Linked DNA regions of Homo sapiens: all the other regions are linked to region 2. Evidence: fine-mapped expression QTL. A gene starts in region 2. Each other region holds a variant in brackets. All regions are shown on one strand. Distances are between the middles of the regions.

Evidence for each region. PIP is the estimated chance that this variant, and not a neighbour inherited with it, causes the effect.
Region 1: its variant is the best candidate, but not a certain one, in a credible set for the expression of CDRT4 in whole blood (TOPMed, PIP 0.75).
Region 3: its variant is the best candidate, but not a certain one, in a credible set for the expression of CDRT4 in sun-exposed skin (GTEx, PIP 0.71).

Annotation. Positions count from the first base shown.
Region 1 is chr17:15,568,218-15,573,627 of GRCh38, forward strand. It overlaps a transcript of FBXW10B not described here. Among named protein-coding and RNA genes, the nearest start is that of TVP23C-CDRT4, 7.4 kb to the left of the region's middle. The variant A/G (reference allele first, on the strand shown) is at 2,155.
Region 2 is chr17:15,464,854-15,470,263 of GRCh38, forward strand. CDRT4 (CMT1A duplicated region transcript 4) reads right to left here and starts at 2,768. Exons shown (of 4, transcript NM_001204477.2): 1 at 2,607-2,768. The region is part of intron 4 of TVP23C-CDRT4 (TVP23C-CDRT4 readthrough); the gene reads right to left.
Region 3 is chr17:15,540,235-15,545,234 of GRCh38, forward strand. All of the region lies in intron 4 of TVP23C-CDRT4 (TVP23C-CDRT4 readthrough), which reads right to left. TVP23C (trans-golgi network vesicle protein 23 homolog C) reads right to left here. Exons shown (of 6, transcript NM_001135036.2): 6 at 1-327. The coding sequence ends at 178. Among named protein-coding and RNA genes, the nearest start is that of TVP23C, 21 kb to the right of the region's middle. RefSeq lists an enhancer at 371-996. The variant A/T (reference allele first, on the strand shown) is at 2,522.

The sequences.
Region 1 (5,410 bases), 100 kb after region 2:
GTACATTTCACTCAACAAATGTGGTTTTTTAGTGCACATGCCAGCCAGGCATGGTGCTCGACCCTGGAGGTGCAGTGGTGACTAAGGCACACTTCTGTGTCTTGTGGGGTTCTGAGTCATGAAGCACCTCATATGTGTGTAATGTGCTAAATACTACAAGGACAGGCCCAGTGTGACGTGGGAGCACAAAGAGAAGTATCTACCTCAAACTGAGGAGACCAAGGATTACTTCTCAGGGAATGCGTCTTGAAGCTGAGAACCAGAGGTTGAGTAAGAAATAAGCCATTCTGCCTGTTCCCTGCTGAGCTCTTGTTTCTGTTCCTTCCTCCTCCACCTACTCTAGTTTGGTGGTCCTTAATCTCCTCCTCATCTCACTTCCCTGCATTTGCTACACTCCACACTGTCTGTACCTCCAACCCAGATTGCTTTTCTGAGCCTAGTTCCTCTGAAAATCTATTGGGCTGCCCCTGCAGGCAGCTCACATTTTGTGTGTATTCACCCCAATTCACTTTCTTTCCCAAATCTTTTTCCTTAATACCTTAATTTATGTTCCAAAGTCAGGCACCTATAAGCCATCCTAGGCACTCTTTTTCTGTTATCTCCTTCATCTGATTACTCAACAGATTGTGTCTTTTCAACCCCCTGATTTACCCTGGAATCTGTGCCCTCTCACCTCAGTGCTTTAGCTTCAGCCCATCATCGGTTTTGCGTGGGTTATTACAGCACATCCCAGCTGACTTCTCTGCCTTCTTCCTAACCCTCCTTCCATCTGTCTTCCACTCAACTGGCAGATAGGTCTTCCGTAAGTGATCACTGTTTCACCAAACATATTTAAGACAAAACACATATCTTTGCTGTGATGAAAAGTACTATAATAAACATGAGTACAGGTATCTTTTTGATTAATGTTGATTTCTTTCCTTTTGTGTAGATACTCAGTAGTGGGATTGCTGGATCAAATGGTAGTTCTATTTTTAGTTCTTTGGGAGATCGCCATACTATTTTCCATAGAGGCTATACTAATTTACATGCCCCGTCAACAGTGTGTAAGAGTTCCCTTTCCTCTGCATCCTCATCAACATCTTCATTTTTTATGATAACAATAGCTCTTCTGACTGGGGTAAAATGATATCTCAGTATGGTTTTAATTTGCATTCCTCTGATGATTAGTGATGTTGAGCATTTTTTCATATACCTTTTGGCTATTCGTATGTCTTCTTTTTTTCTTTTTCTTTTTCTTTTTTTTTTTTTTTTTTTTTTTTTGAGACAGGTCTTGCTCTGTTACTTAGGCTGGAATGCAGTGGCAGGACTATGGCTCACTGCACCCTTAACCTCCAGAACTCGTGATCCTCCCACCTCAGCCTCCCAAGTAGCTGGAATTACAGGTGCCAGTCGCTGGGCCTAGGTAATTTTTTTTTACTTTGTGTGGCCGGTTTCGAACTCCTGGGCTCAAGCGTTTCTCCTGCCTCGGCCTCCTAAAGTGCTGGGATTACAAGTGCGAGCCAACACACCCAGCTAATTTTGTTTTTAAATTTTTTGTAGACACAGTGTCTCACTATGTTGCCCAGGCTGGTCTCAAACTCCTGGCCTCAAGTGATCTTTCTGTCTTGGCCTCCCAAAGTGCTGGGATTACAGGCATGAGCCACCATGTATGTCTTCTTTCAAAAAATGTGATGTCATTTGCCCACATTTCAATGGCATTATTTGTTTGTTTGTTTGTTTTTACTATTGAGTTGTTTGAATTCCTTGTACATTCTGGGTATTAATGCTCTTGTCACACGAACAGTTTTAGGCACCATTTTCAATACTATATTACAGAGGTGAACAAAACAGAAAAATTCTTGCTATCGTGGAGCTTGCATGCTAGCCATTATACCTGGCAGGTAGCTAATGCTTAATAATGGATGGATGGACAGGTGGATGGATGATAAGAGAAAGAAATGACCTCCTAGGTGGGAGAAATACAGAAGTAAAGATACCAAAGAAGGAATACATGGCATCTGCTGTCAAGGCGATGAGAAGGCCATTCGGACAGGAGTGGAGAATGAGCGAAGAGACAAAATGAACATCAAGATAGAGAGACACGCTGTAGACCTTGACAGACAGACAGACTTTGGATAGGTAGAGAATGAAGCAAAGACCATGTCAGGCAAG[A/G]TGAACATGGTGAGCAAAAATGCAAAGATGGGAGTGCAAAATATATGTGTAAGGATAAAAACAGGCAACCTGGCCAGCTGTAGAGGGAAGGATGTATATAGGAGAATTGTGAGGAAGTAAAACTGGGAAGAGGTTAAGGAAAATGTACAGACCAGACTACACTGTGAAGGCTGTTCTATAGGAACTGGACCTTGGTCAGTGTTGTTCTGGAGCTCCTGACTAGTATATAATAAGGCAAGAGAGAGAAAGAAAAGGCACATACACTGGAAAGAAATGAAATTCTTTTCACAATGTGATTGTTTATGTGGAAAATTCAAAGGAATCTACAGAAAAGCTACTAGGAGTAATAAGTAAATCTAGCAAGGGTATAGAATACAAGGTCAGTATTCCAAAATCAGCTGTGGAATTCCACTTCCAGCATGACAACATGGGCTGCTCCCCAGTGAAACTGGGCTCGGCAGAGGACTCTTCGATAAAACACAAAAGCCACAAACCATGCAAGAAAAGTAGATAAACTGTACTTCATCAAAATTAAAAACTTCTGCTCTTCAGAAGACACTTAAAATGAAAATACAAGCCACAGAGTAGGAGATAACATTTGTAAAATACAGACATGATGAAGAACTCATGTACAGAATATAGAAAGAAGTCTTAAACTCATTAAGAAAACAACCTTAAAAATAGACAAAAGGGGCCGGGCACAGTGGCTCACGCCTGTAATCCTAGCCCTTTAGGAGGCCAAAGCAGGAGGACTGCTTGAGCCCAGGAGTTTGAGACCAGTCTGGGCAATATAGTGAGACCTCATCTTTACAAAATTTTTTTAAAAAATTAGGTATGGCAGCATGTGCCTGTAGTCCCAACTACTTGGGAGGCTGAGGAGGGAGGATCACTTGAGCCCAGGAAGCAGATGTTGCAGTCAGCTAAGATCATGCCACTGCACTCAAGTCTGGGTGACACAGCAAGACCCTGTCAAAAAAAAAAAAAAGTGCGTAAAAGATTTAAATAGGCCCTACTCCAAAGAAGAAATACAGACGTTAAATAAGCAAAAGATTTTCAACGTCAGTAATCATAGGGGAAATGCAAATTAAAAACACAATGAGATACCACTACACGCCTATTAGCATAATTAACATTTATTAAAAACAACAATACAGTGCTGACAAGGGTGTAGAATACCTGAAGCTCTCGTTTATTGCTAGTGTGAATGCAGAATGGTACAATCAATTCCAAGAACAGTTTGGCAGATTTCAATAAATTTAAACAAAATTTACCATACAATCCCATTCCTGTGTATGTATGGACACATGTCCATACAAAGATCTGTACATGAATATTAGCTTAAATATCACTAAAGACAACCTAAACATCCCTCAGCTGATGAATAGATAAACAAATTACGGCTGAAATACTACTCAGAAATTAAAAGGAACAAACCACTGGTACGTGCAGTGACACGGGTGTGTTTCAAAAGCACTATGTTAAGTGAAAGAAGACAGAGACAAAAGACAGCATGTCGTATGATTCCATTTATATGACATTTTGGAAAGCCAAAACTAGGCACAGAAGTAAGATCAGTGGTTACTGGGAAACGGCGGTGGGGGGAGGGGTGCGGGGGACAGGAGGGAATTGGCTACAGAGGGGCATAAGAAACTTTTTGAAAAGATAAATTTATATGTTCCATATCTTGATTGTGGTGGTGGTTACACTATGTTTACCTTTTTTTTTTTTTTTAACTCAGAACTAACTGTACACTTGCAATGGGTAAATTTGTGTATTGAAAATTATAGTCTGTTTTAGACTAGATTTTCAGAGCACTTGGTTTTTCCTTGGGGAATAGAATGTTGTAGAACATAAGATTTTGGGGTCCGATTGCCTGGAATCAAAGCCTAGCTCCTCCGCCTGCTTCACCATGCAACCCTGACCATATTACTAAACTTCTCTGAGGCTCTGTTTCCTCGCCTATAAAATGAGGTTCGTGCCTTCCACCTCATAGAGTTATGTGAGAAAACGACTGTTCTTATAAAGCCGTCAGTAAATGATACTGCTGTCATCATTGTTACTACTTTTTTCAGAATTGTGTCCTCAGCATCTCTGGATGTTACACTCTGTGCTAAATGCTGGAATATGACCAGCATGACCTGATCCCTGCCTTCATTCCCGTCCGGTGGGGAAGGTAGAACTTTAGCCAGTGAACAGTTGAGCTCTAAAAGATCATTCTAGGTGGGCATCAATGGTGCCAAGGAAAGAGACAGAATGATAATACAGAACAATTGGGAGAGAGCACTCCAGAGCGGGAAGGCACTGGGAGGGAGTGGATTGGAGTTGAGAACTGAAGGAGAGTGATGCAGAGATCTGGGGGAACGTACGGTGGCCAGAGTGGGCTTCTACCTGACACTATAAATAGAAAGGCCAGTGTGGTGAGAACATAATGAACAAGGGGCAGGGTGGCACAAGATGAAGACAGAAGGGCTGGAACTCCATGTGCAGTGGGAGAAGCCAGAAATAAGTTGTACAAATGGGGCTGGTGTGATCAGATTTAGGTTAAAAGAACCCCTCAGCTGCCTGGGTAAAATAGACCATAGAATCCCAGGAGAGAGACTTGGGGCAGCTCCTGGCATGACTTGATGATAGCTTGGACCAGGGTGGTCACAGCAGAAGTGAAGTTCTTCTGTTACTCAGCTCAAAATTCAGGCTGGCTACCATTGCCTACTCTTCTCTGAAACGTTCCCGTCTCTATTGCCTATGTGTATCTTCACCTTTGTTACAGTGCTATAGCTCTGTCTACCTGTAATTCATTATAAGGGAGAGGAGCAGAGGTGACATTAGAATGTAATCCCAGAGAAGGTGCAGCTCCCCTGTTCAGTCAAATCCTCACAGCCAGCACCAACAGAAATACATTTCTGTTTAGCCAGGCTGCCGATGCTTGTAGCATGAAGAATAATAGAGTAAACCCCACAGGGAAACAGAACCCCATAGAATTCTCCACCTCTCCTCTACTGAGAGTCTCCTTAAAGGCGGAATGGTTTGAATGCCCAGCCATCTAAATATAGGCTTTTCTTTTGTTCCCTCTTAATTTAACTGAGTGATTCTCAAACTCTAGTGAACACAGTCATTATTTTCCAGAATTGTACATACATAACCTTCCATGTACTTTATGGATGAGTTCAGGGGATTTTAAAGGATAATTTTGAATGTAATATAGTTTCACCTTAGGGCTGACCTAAATAAACTGAATAAACTGCAGCTCCACTGTTTC
Region 2 (5,410 bases):
GCACAGAAAGGAACCAGCAGGGATACGGGAACAGAGGCACAGACATCAAGCAGGGTTCAAGAAAGTGCAAGTGGGTGCAACACACACACACACCAACACACAGACACACACACCAACAGACACACCAACACACAGACACACGCAATACAGACACACACAACACAGACACACACCAACACACAGACACACATAACACAGACACACACCAACACAGACACACACCAATACAGACACACACAACACAGACACACACCAACACACAGACACACCAACACACAGATACAAACACAGACACACCAACACACACACACCAACACACAGACACACAACACACATACCAACACAGACACACCAACAGACACACACCAACACACAGACACACACAACAGACACACACCAACACACACAACACACACACCAACACAAACACACACCAACACCAGACACACCAACACACAGACACACACAACACAGACATGCACAACACAGACACATACCAACACCAGACACACCAACACAGACACACATAACACACACACCAACACACACACACAACACACACCAACACAGACATACACCAGTACCAGACACACCAACACACAGACACACATAACGGAGATACACATCAACACCAGACATACAAACACAGACACACACAACACAGACCCACACCAATACCAGACACACCAACACAAACACACACAACAAAGACACTTAGGTACAAACACACACACCAACACACAGACACACATACACCAGCACAGAGATACACACCAAGACATTCATACAACACAGACACACACGCACAAAGATACACACAACACACAAAACACACAAACACACAGTCATATCACAAACACGGAGACACATATGCCTACACATGCACAGACACGCATGCTAACGCCTTCCAATATGGCAGCCAAGGGGCTCTTGCTGTGGTCAGGGAAGAGGGGGAGGGAGCCTGGCCATCCACCGTGGGGAGGACATGCAGCGCGCATCGTGAGGACTCCAGACCCCTGAGGGTGGTAGCAGCAGGAGGGCAACAGAGGATCCTAGAGTTGCTGCACCTGGGGGCAGATCCAGTTGTTACAGGGCCTGAGCATTCTACAGCTGGTGGGGAAACCCTCTTTGTGCCCTGCACAAGTGGTAAGCACTTAGAAGACATCCCTGAAGGAGGGAGAGAAAGGGAGGGAGAGGGAGGGAAAGGGAGGGGGAGGGAGGGCAGAGCCTACCAGGAAGCCTGGAGGAAGCCTGCGACCTGGGACCCAGGTCAGCTCCCTGACCCAGGCCAGTGGGTGAACTGACAAGTGACAGAGTCTGGATTTGAACCCAGGGACTCGGCTGCCCATGTTCTTAACCTGCGTCACCTATCTGCCTCTCTCATACTGACTCAATGTAGCTCAAACAAGTGTAAAGCAAGAGCTTCCAGCACAAACAGTGGGCTTCGGGCTCAGGCCTCCAGAAACACTGCCTGGGGTGGGAGCCTGGGCGCTGGGCCAGCTTCCACCCAGATGGGGAGAAGGGAAGGGCTGCCTCATCTGCAGAAACGAGTCTCTTCTGTTCTCTTCTCCCCACCCCTATCTACACCAAGGTGCATTCATGGATCGCAAGGTTTCTTACTAATTTTTTGTTTCATTCACTGGTGTCTTTTATTCCTTGTTCTAAATTACTTTTTTTAATTTTTACTTTTATAGAGACAGTCTCACTGACACCCAGGCTGGAGTGCAGTGGCACGATCATGGCTCACTGCAGCCTCAAACTCCTGGGCTCACACAGACACACACTCAATACAGACACACACCTGGACTCAAGGGGCCCTCCTGCCTCAGCCTCCAGAGTAGCTGGGACTACAGGTGCACACCAATGCCCAGCTAATTTATTTTTATTTTTATTTTTGTAGAAACGGGGTCTTGCTATGTTGCCTAGGCTGGTCTTGAGTTCTCGGCCTCAAACAATCCTCCTGCCTCAGCCTCCTTAAGTGGTGGGATTACAAGCATGATTAATTATTTTTAAATAAGTGACTTGATTATTATTGTTTTGTAAAAATCCTCTTAGTCACCTTTGTCCCTATAGGTTTCTATAGGTGCTTAATAATTTTTTAAAGGTATTTACCAGTTCTGGCTAAACATTCCTTTGGTCCTGAGCTCTGTGGAGAGGTAATGCATCTGTGGGAACATCATCACCCTCATCCCCAACCCATCACCCCCAGGGGATGGGGGGGAACGGGGGTATATTTTGTGTGTGTGTGTTTTGCTTAAGTAGAGTGGTCAGCCCTGAGTGTACAATAGAATCACCTGGCTGTCATTATAGACATACCTGAGCTCAAGCCCTCTGCAGACAAAGTAAATCAGAATCCTAGGAATGGGACGAGCTTGTTGGCAAGGGTTGGGCATCAGTACGTTTTACAAAGTCCTGAGGGGATTGGGTGACCAGGATTGGGATCCACTTAAGGGAAGTAATGCTGGGGACTCTGGGGACCCTTTAATGGCAGGATTATTCTTTGATGAAGGACCTGACCTTCTCCTGGAAGTTGAGTGTGAGCCTTTTCACTTTCACCCTCGACTTCCCTCTCTGGGGACACCCAGTGTTCTGGCCCAGACTGTTACCTGAGAAGTTTCTGTGATTCCCCATCCTTCCTGCACTATCTTGGCTGTTCCCCTGCCCGGCGTTTATATTTTGTCTCCAGCTGTCCCCTGTGCTCTCAATCCCACTTCTCTTTGGCTCTCTCTTTGCTGCAGCTAACCATCCTCTTGCCCCTGCCCCAAAGTGACCCATGAGCCAGAAGTCAGGAGTGAAGGGGGGCACTGTGACATCAGAAGTTGCCATGCACCCCCTCCTGAATCTTCTGCCCTGCTCTCTTCCTCCTCTGCAGGCTCAGCGGTCACCAGCAATGCAGTCCTCAAACACGGACATTAGAGTGATTATTCCCACCCCCAAGAGTGAACACCTACTATGTGCTGGACCCTAGACCAAACACATACACACATAAAGATACACAACACACACACATGCACACACACACACCCCAACATGCATGACCTCATTTGAGATCTCTGATCATTTCAACAAGCAGTTACTCTGGCCCAGACGCAGCCAACTACAGAGATAGACAAGACCTGTGGTCTCTTTCCTTAGTGCCAGAATCTCCTAGAAGGTCTATTAAGACAGATTGCTGGGTCCCACTCCCAGGGTCTCTGATTCAGTATATGTGGGGTGGGGCCCAAGAACTTGCCTTTCTAACAAGCTCTCAGCCTTCTTCTGAAATAAAATCCTCTTTAGATAAGCTGGAGAGAGAATGGCTGTCACTAACAGGCTGTTGAGAATTAGCCTCCTTCTCCCCAACTCCATTGACCGGCCAGTGCTTGGCAATGGAGAGAGCGAGCAGCTTCTAACCTCCCCTGTGGCCCCAACCGTGAAAAAGTCCCCAAGATGCCAGGAGGACACAGTGCAGAGCAGGCTGTAAAGTCTGGCAGTTTAATTGCAGTCATCAACTCGGGGCAGCACCAGGAGACAGGCTGGACTTGCTCTCCCTGTGTTATCATCATGCCCTGTTGACAATCCTTTGAAATGTCTCTCCCTGTGTCTGTTCCTTCTGCTCCTCTCCACTCCCCCACCACCTCTCCAATCCCAGAGTTCAACCTGTCCAGCCAGGAATGTAAAGTCCCCTCACTTCTCTGCAACCACAGCAAGCACTTGAGCTTCCTCCAAATCATACTGACTCAATCATATATTTCCCACGATCTCCTTTTCTTCATAGTTCTCTATAATCTTCAGAGAGAGGTGCATTCTAGAAAAAGGCCAGGCAGAAAACACCTGTGTTTCAGCCTCAGTTTTATCATTTAGTTGTAAGAAAACATACATCAAGTGGATCCCCAACAAAAATCTACCTCTCCTCACTGCCCACGAGTCAGTACCTAGAGCCTCAGGCAGAGCCCTCATTGCTGCGGTTCTCAAAAAGCCTTTCTCTATCCTCCCCTCTCTCCAGGCTCTAGTTCCTCTTCAACTCCAGCCCTAAACTCCCTGAATTCATTCTCGCTCTGGAGCTCCCGTGTCAGCGGAGCCATGCCTTCAACCTTTCCATGGGCCCCTATTTTGTGGCTCAGTGTCCCTGAGCCCTGAGTATCTCCATTCAGTTCTTCAAACAAGTTCTAGACAAGGGAAGGATCTGAGCAAAGTCACGGAGGTGCGGGACAGCCTGGGCGTCTGGAAATGCTACGGGAAATGCACAGGTGAGGGGGATGGGGGGGAGTTGGGGTGGGCCAGTCTGACAAGGTTCTGCTCTCTCTCCCAGCAAGTCTGGGGAAGACAGTGGACATCTTTGAGTGCACAGGCCAGGTGTGAAGTGTAGCGGATGAGCAGGGGACCTCCCCTGTGGTTCCACAAGAACCTCCAAAGACTCACCCCAGAAGTCTTCTGCAGCTTGAAGTGACTCTCTGAGCTGCTTATACCTAGCGCTGATGTGCAATGGGCCAGGGCCCGGCAGGGAGCCAGACCCTCGGACTCGAGAAAGCCATTTGAGAGTGACATCAGCCCACCACCTGCTAGTGCGCACTCACAGTGTTTCCGGAAGCCATGATGCTAATCATGTCTGTTTCTGTGTTGTCCATGGCAAGACTCCAAGCCCAGAAAAGAAAATCTGTAGCCCAAGTTATTTTCCTCCCACAGGGCTTGCCTGGCCTTTGATTGTTGGCTTTGGGGAGGTGCATTTCTCCCTCCTCTGTGGGCAGCAAATTCCCCGTGAGTCAACAGATCCTGTATCTGGGCTCACCATGGGCTTCTACTGGCACTGAGAAGGGGCAAGCTGAGCAAACATGCAATGTGACCCCAGTGCTGACCAACCCAGAGATGCCCCATGGGACTCAGGGACTTGACCTCAGTGCTTCTGGGGTCCCTCAGTGTATCTTGCTGGCCTCAGCACTGGGCTGCTTGGTAACCTCCCCACAGGCAGGTACTAAGTGCAGCCAGCCCCTTCATTCAAGGCAGAATGAATTAAAAAGCTGGGGTTCCAGAGTTGGCTCCAGGTCACCCATGCACACACCCCATGCCAGGTACTGCTCTCAACTCTTCACACACTAGCTTATTCTGGGCTCAAAACTCCCAGGAATACCTTCGAGGCAGTTTCCACTACTCTAATCCCCATTTTACAAAGTGATGAAACTGAGGCACACAGTTCAGTAAGTTGCCCACGGATACACAATTCATAAGTAGAAAAATCAAAGTGCAAATTCCAGAACGTACACCACTAAGAAGGGGCCACGAGGCAGCTCTCCCCACCTGAGAATCCCCCTGAAATCCATGGTGAGCCTGCCCAGAGCCCCCACCCCTACCCAACTTACATTGGCTGCTCTTCCTTTTGCCCCAGAACCCCAAATAACTGGCCAAATGGACTCAGGTGTATCCCTTTGGCCTC
Region 3 (5,000 bases), 75 kb after region 2:
TAAAATAATTTTAGGATACTGACAATACACTTCCAGACTGTCTTGAACACCCCCAAAGAGCAATTACAACATCTTTATCATTATATTTATACAACTATATGCCTTTAAAACTTCTGTTCAGGAGCGTTTCATAAAAATTAAACTATGAAAGTTAGAAATAATTGCATTAGTCACTGATCACATCCAGAAAACACTTACTTGTCTTAAAAACTGCTTTCCAAAATATGAAGTAGCCATGCTGGTTAAATGCTTTCTGCTGCGCACCTTACACCTGATGTAACCATACAGGTTGGCACCTTGTAGCACCACACCCATAATAACCACCGCCTGGGACAAGGGAAAAAAATAATCAACGGTTACTGGCCTGAAATTGACCTTTCTCTGTGCCATAAATGAGACAAGGCAGACTGTCATGAGAAAGAGAAGGAAGAGGAAGCTCTGCAAAGCCATGATTGTGCCAGTTGAGATTTTCCAGAGACAGTTGCCAGAACAGACCCATCTGATAGACGCTCTGCACAAGGCACGAGTCATTCACCCAGCAAATATTTACTGGACACAACTGCTCTATGTGCCAGGCACCATGCTAGCTGCTGGGGATGCAGTGCAGGGGGAGCCTTCTTGCTCTCTGTTTCCCATTGGTCTGTGAGTAAAGTTAGGAAAAGTAAATGAGACTCAGGAAAGGTTCAAATGTTAATTATTCCTATAGGAATTACAAAAGAACAGTCAAGAGGTAGATCAAGTTCAATAAACTGAGAGCAGGTAGGGGTGAATCTCTGCTCTACGTGACAACTGGCTTCTGGTAGAGGGGATGCAATGCCCTAAGGCATAAATCAACCGATGCCTGCCTTCCCCGAGGAGAGAGACAGCTCCAAGGGGAACTGTACTTTTGCAGAGCTGTTTGTTCCTTTGAGTTTCATTTTCTCACCTATGGTGATCCCACTAGGATCAATGAGAAGTGAGAAAAAGAAACTCAAAACCCATTCTTTAAAAATTTCTAATTAATCTTAATTAGAAAAATTGAGACAATGTGAGGGATTCCCAAGGTTAAAGACTCTAATACAGTGATCAGCAAAGTTCTCCTGTAAAGGGTCAAATCATAAATATTTCAGACCATACGGTCTCTGTTGCAATTACTCAACTCTGCTGTTCTAATCCAAAGGCAGCCATAGACAATATATAAGTGGGCAAGGCTGTTTTTCAATAAAAACTTACAAAAACAGGTGTCGGGCTGGATTTGGTCTGCAGGCCATAGTTTGCCAACCCTTGTTCTGGAATAAACAGCTCATCGACCATTCTACTCTTTTATATCTGTGACAAGCAAAGCAGCTCAATGAAATGTCGTTTTCCAATCTAGATTTATTCTCCTTACCCTTAACAAGATGTATAGCTGATTTTAATGTTTAATTAATAGATTTAAATGTTTGATTAATGAACAGGTTCACATTCCTAGTAAAAGAAGAGGAGGTGGTACTTTCTGTTCTAAACTTATGTTTCATGGAATTAAACGTGTTAGTGTAATAAGAGGGTGCTAGTTTCCTAAATAAATATAAAACTGTGTATTTATTTGAATAAATTTCCTTTTAATTTCCCATGCTTCTCAAATGGGGCACTGCTGGGTATTGTATATATCAACATGCCAGGGTACACCTGAATTCAAAGACCAATCACGGGTCCTGCTAAGGCATCGATTTACTCAATGGCAACAAATGTTAAAATCTGTAAGTTAAACTTCTGGTTTAAGATGGTGCAGTGAAGTCAGACATGAAGATCTCCCTGCCCTTAAGGTACAAACAGCAAACAGCGTTTTTAAAAACACAAATAAACTAATACCAACAAACACAAAAAAGGGCTGGTGGCCAAAGAAAGAGCCAGGTTGGAGCAGCTCTACATAGCTCCAAACTCTGCAAAGAAGCTCTAAGGAAAATTTCACTAATAATTACCATCCCCAGGAACTTATAGAAAAGCAAAAGACCCGAGAAAAAAATGCAGAAATAGCCATGACAGCAGAAACTCCTCCCAACTAACAATGACCCAAACAGGCAGGAAAATCCCTGCAGCTGGCCATAGTGGTGCCACCGGGTGGGAAGAAGGCAGGAGACGAAGCGCAGAAGGATCAATAATCATGAGAGATGATCATCTTAAGAGAAGTGAGGAGGTGGGAGACTCATGGAGAGACTGGGTGAAGCCCATTCCCGTCCTGTGGTCTTAACCCATTTATTTTTATTATTTTTATTTATTTATTTTTATTTATTTATTTTTTGAGACGGAGTCTCGCTCTGTCACTCAGGCTGGAGTGCGGTGGCACGATCTCAGCTCACTGCAAACTCCGCCTCCTGGGTTCACTCCATTCTCCTGCCTCAGCCTCCCGAGTAACTGGGACTACAGGTGCCTGCCACCACACCCGGCTAATTTTTTTATTTTTAGTAGAGACAGGGTTTCACCGTGTTAGCCAGGATGGTCTCGATCTCCTGACCTCGTGATCCGCCCGCCTTGGCCCTCCCAAAGTGCTGGGATTACAGGC[A/T]TGAGCCACCATGCCAAGGTCTTAACCCATTTATGCTGTAGGCTGCAATTTTGTGAATTTTTGCATGAGTGAAAAATCAGACCTTGGTGATTACCTTGAGCAGTAGGATATAAATAACTCCTACATGCTTAGCGTTCCAATAATGGAACACTAGGCATAAGTAGGTTAACACAGGATCAAACTGGCTTTCACATAACCTCTCCCTGTTTTGTTTTAAGGAAGTAGAAACACTGCTAGAAAAAGACTGGGCTCACTCTCTTGGATGGATGCTAAAGCTCTAAGGTCTTACAAACAATCCAAAGCAGAAGGGAAGAACCAGAAGAGAGTGCACAGCCAACCAGCAGACAAGAGCCCCACTAAGGAAGAGAACGCAAAACCAGGCAGCCCAGCCAAGACAGCAAGAGCCTGGTAAGTTCTCCACATCGCACATCACACCTGTGCCTTCAGGCTACCAAACCCAGCACTGCAACTCCAGCTCAGAGCAGCAGCCACGTGCCTCAGACATCAGGAGAAGGTGGTCAAGGGGGATTCACCCGCACTAAACCAGCAGAAAGAGAAGGGCTGGACAGGACTGTCACTGTAAGGATAAGCAAAATGGATAAGGAAAAAGGGAAGTGCATTTATGCAAAACTATAGCGAAAAAAGAAAAAAGAAGCATAGTATACAGAAGATAGGTGAAGAATCTACTCGAAAAGAAAAAAAACCCACCAAAATAAAAGCATTCCTGGGACTATTTCACCCTACAGAAAAACCTAAAGAAAAGAACTCAAAAAGCATGAGGGTGAGATAACAGGAGATGAAAATGGAGCTGACAAAGCTAAGGAAATACAGAGAGAAGCCTTAGCTGAGCACTTAAAATAGTTACTGTTCTCTCCTCTGCACTCTCTACCCCATTACTTTGTATCATTAACTAACATCCCCTACTGTATTTTTTACTGTTTATCTACCTTCCACTAGAACATAAGCTCTACTGGAGCAGTCAACTTGTTTACTGTCCCCTAACTTGTCCCCCTGTGTCCCCAGACAGCTCTGACATAAGAGTGAACTCTTAAAATTGCTGAATAAATAAGGAAAAGATGAATAATTAAAGCAACAAGAAAATAGTAGATGAAAACAAATAAAAATGATCCAACATAAACGTAACTGGTACTTCAAAATAAAAGGTCAAACCATAGAACATAAATAAATGCAAAGATTTAACAGAAAAAATTTTCCTGATTCCAAGCAAAACTTTAGTCTGCCTGTCAGAAAGGCACAGACTCCAGAAAACTTGATATGGAAAGATAAATACAAATACATCTGGGTTACATGAACTAAAAAAAAAAACACCTTATGAGGAGAGATTACAAAGGTTAAGTAAGCCTGGCCTCAGACTTCTCCAAGATATTCAGTGAAAGAAAATGATGGAATAGCATCCTCCAAAAAGAAACAAACTGTGACCCAAGAATATTAATCCAGCCAGGTCATCATTTAAGAATAGTCAATAGGCTCATATGTTTAAACATGAGTCAAAAGAAAATGTAGCCAACCAATAAGTAAAAGGAGAAGCTGCAATAAGACTGGTGATAGGCAATGAATTGACTTTTTTAAAAAACAGATCAAAGACTGAACAACCAGTAAGAAATATGTTTTCAAAAGATAACTATTATAAAACTTGGTAACACAAAAATAACATTGGAACAAACAAGAGAGAAAGGAGGAAACTCATAGGAAGGAATATGAGTGTTTATTTTCTTCCCTTTCTAAACAGAGTCTATTAAGTCAATAAACAGGTTTAAGTACATTAATTAATGTTACAAAGAAAACCACTAGAAGGACTAAAATAAGACTATAATAAGCAAAACTCTAGAGGTAGGAGGAGGGAGAAGTTAAAGAAACCATATTAGCGTAAAGTTTCCCATTTTCCAGAGCAGGAACTCCATAAATACTGAATACATTTCCTAATTCATGAAAGAGGGTAATGATATAACATATAAAGTAATTAAAGGTAACTACCAGAAGAACTGAAAAAAGACAATAAGCTTCCAATAAGCTTCCAAATCCAAAGAAGGAAAGTATGAATGTATGAGCACACACAAAGAAAAAAAGAATCTATATCACAAAATAGGACTAAGAAAATACTACAAATTAGGAGGAAAAACATAATTAAGGCCAAAATATATCTGATATCAATAAATATTGTGTGAAAATTCACACAATATTTATTCATATCAGATATAAGATAGAATAAGAAAAAACAATATGAGATATAAAAAAGAGTAAGACTCACAAATTGGGTCAAGTGACAAACTATATTTTCCAAAGACAGCAGCAACAATATCTCCTCTTCCACAAAGTCTTCTAGCACCTTCTTATTCCTTATCAAGAGTAGAGCCTAATTCCCATTTCCTTGAATGTGAGTGGGCAGCAGAAGCAATGCTATGACATCTTAGGCTAGATTGTAAAAGCTTGTGAGCTAGAACACCCCACAAGTGAAGTA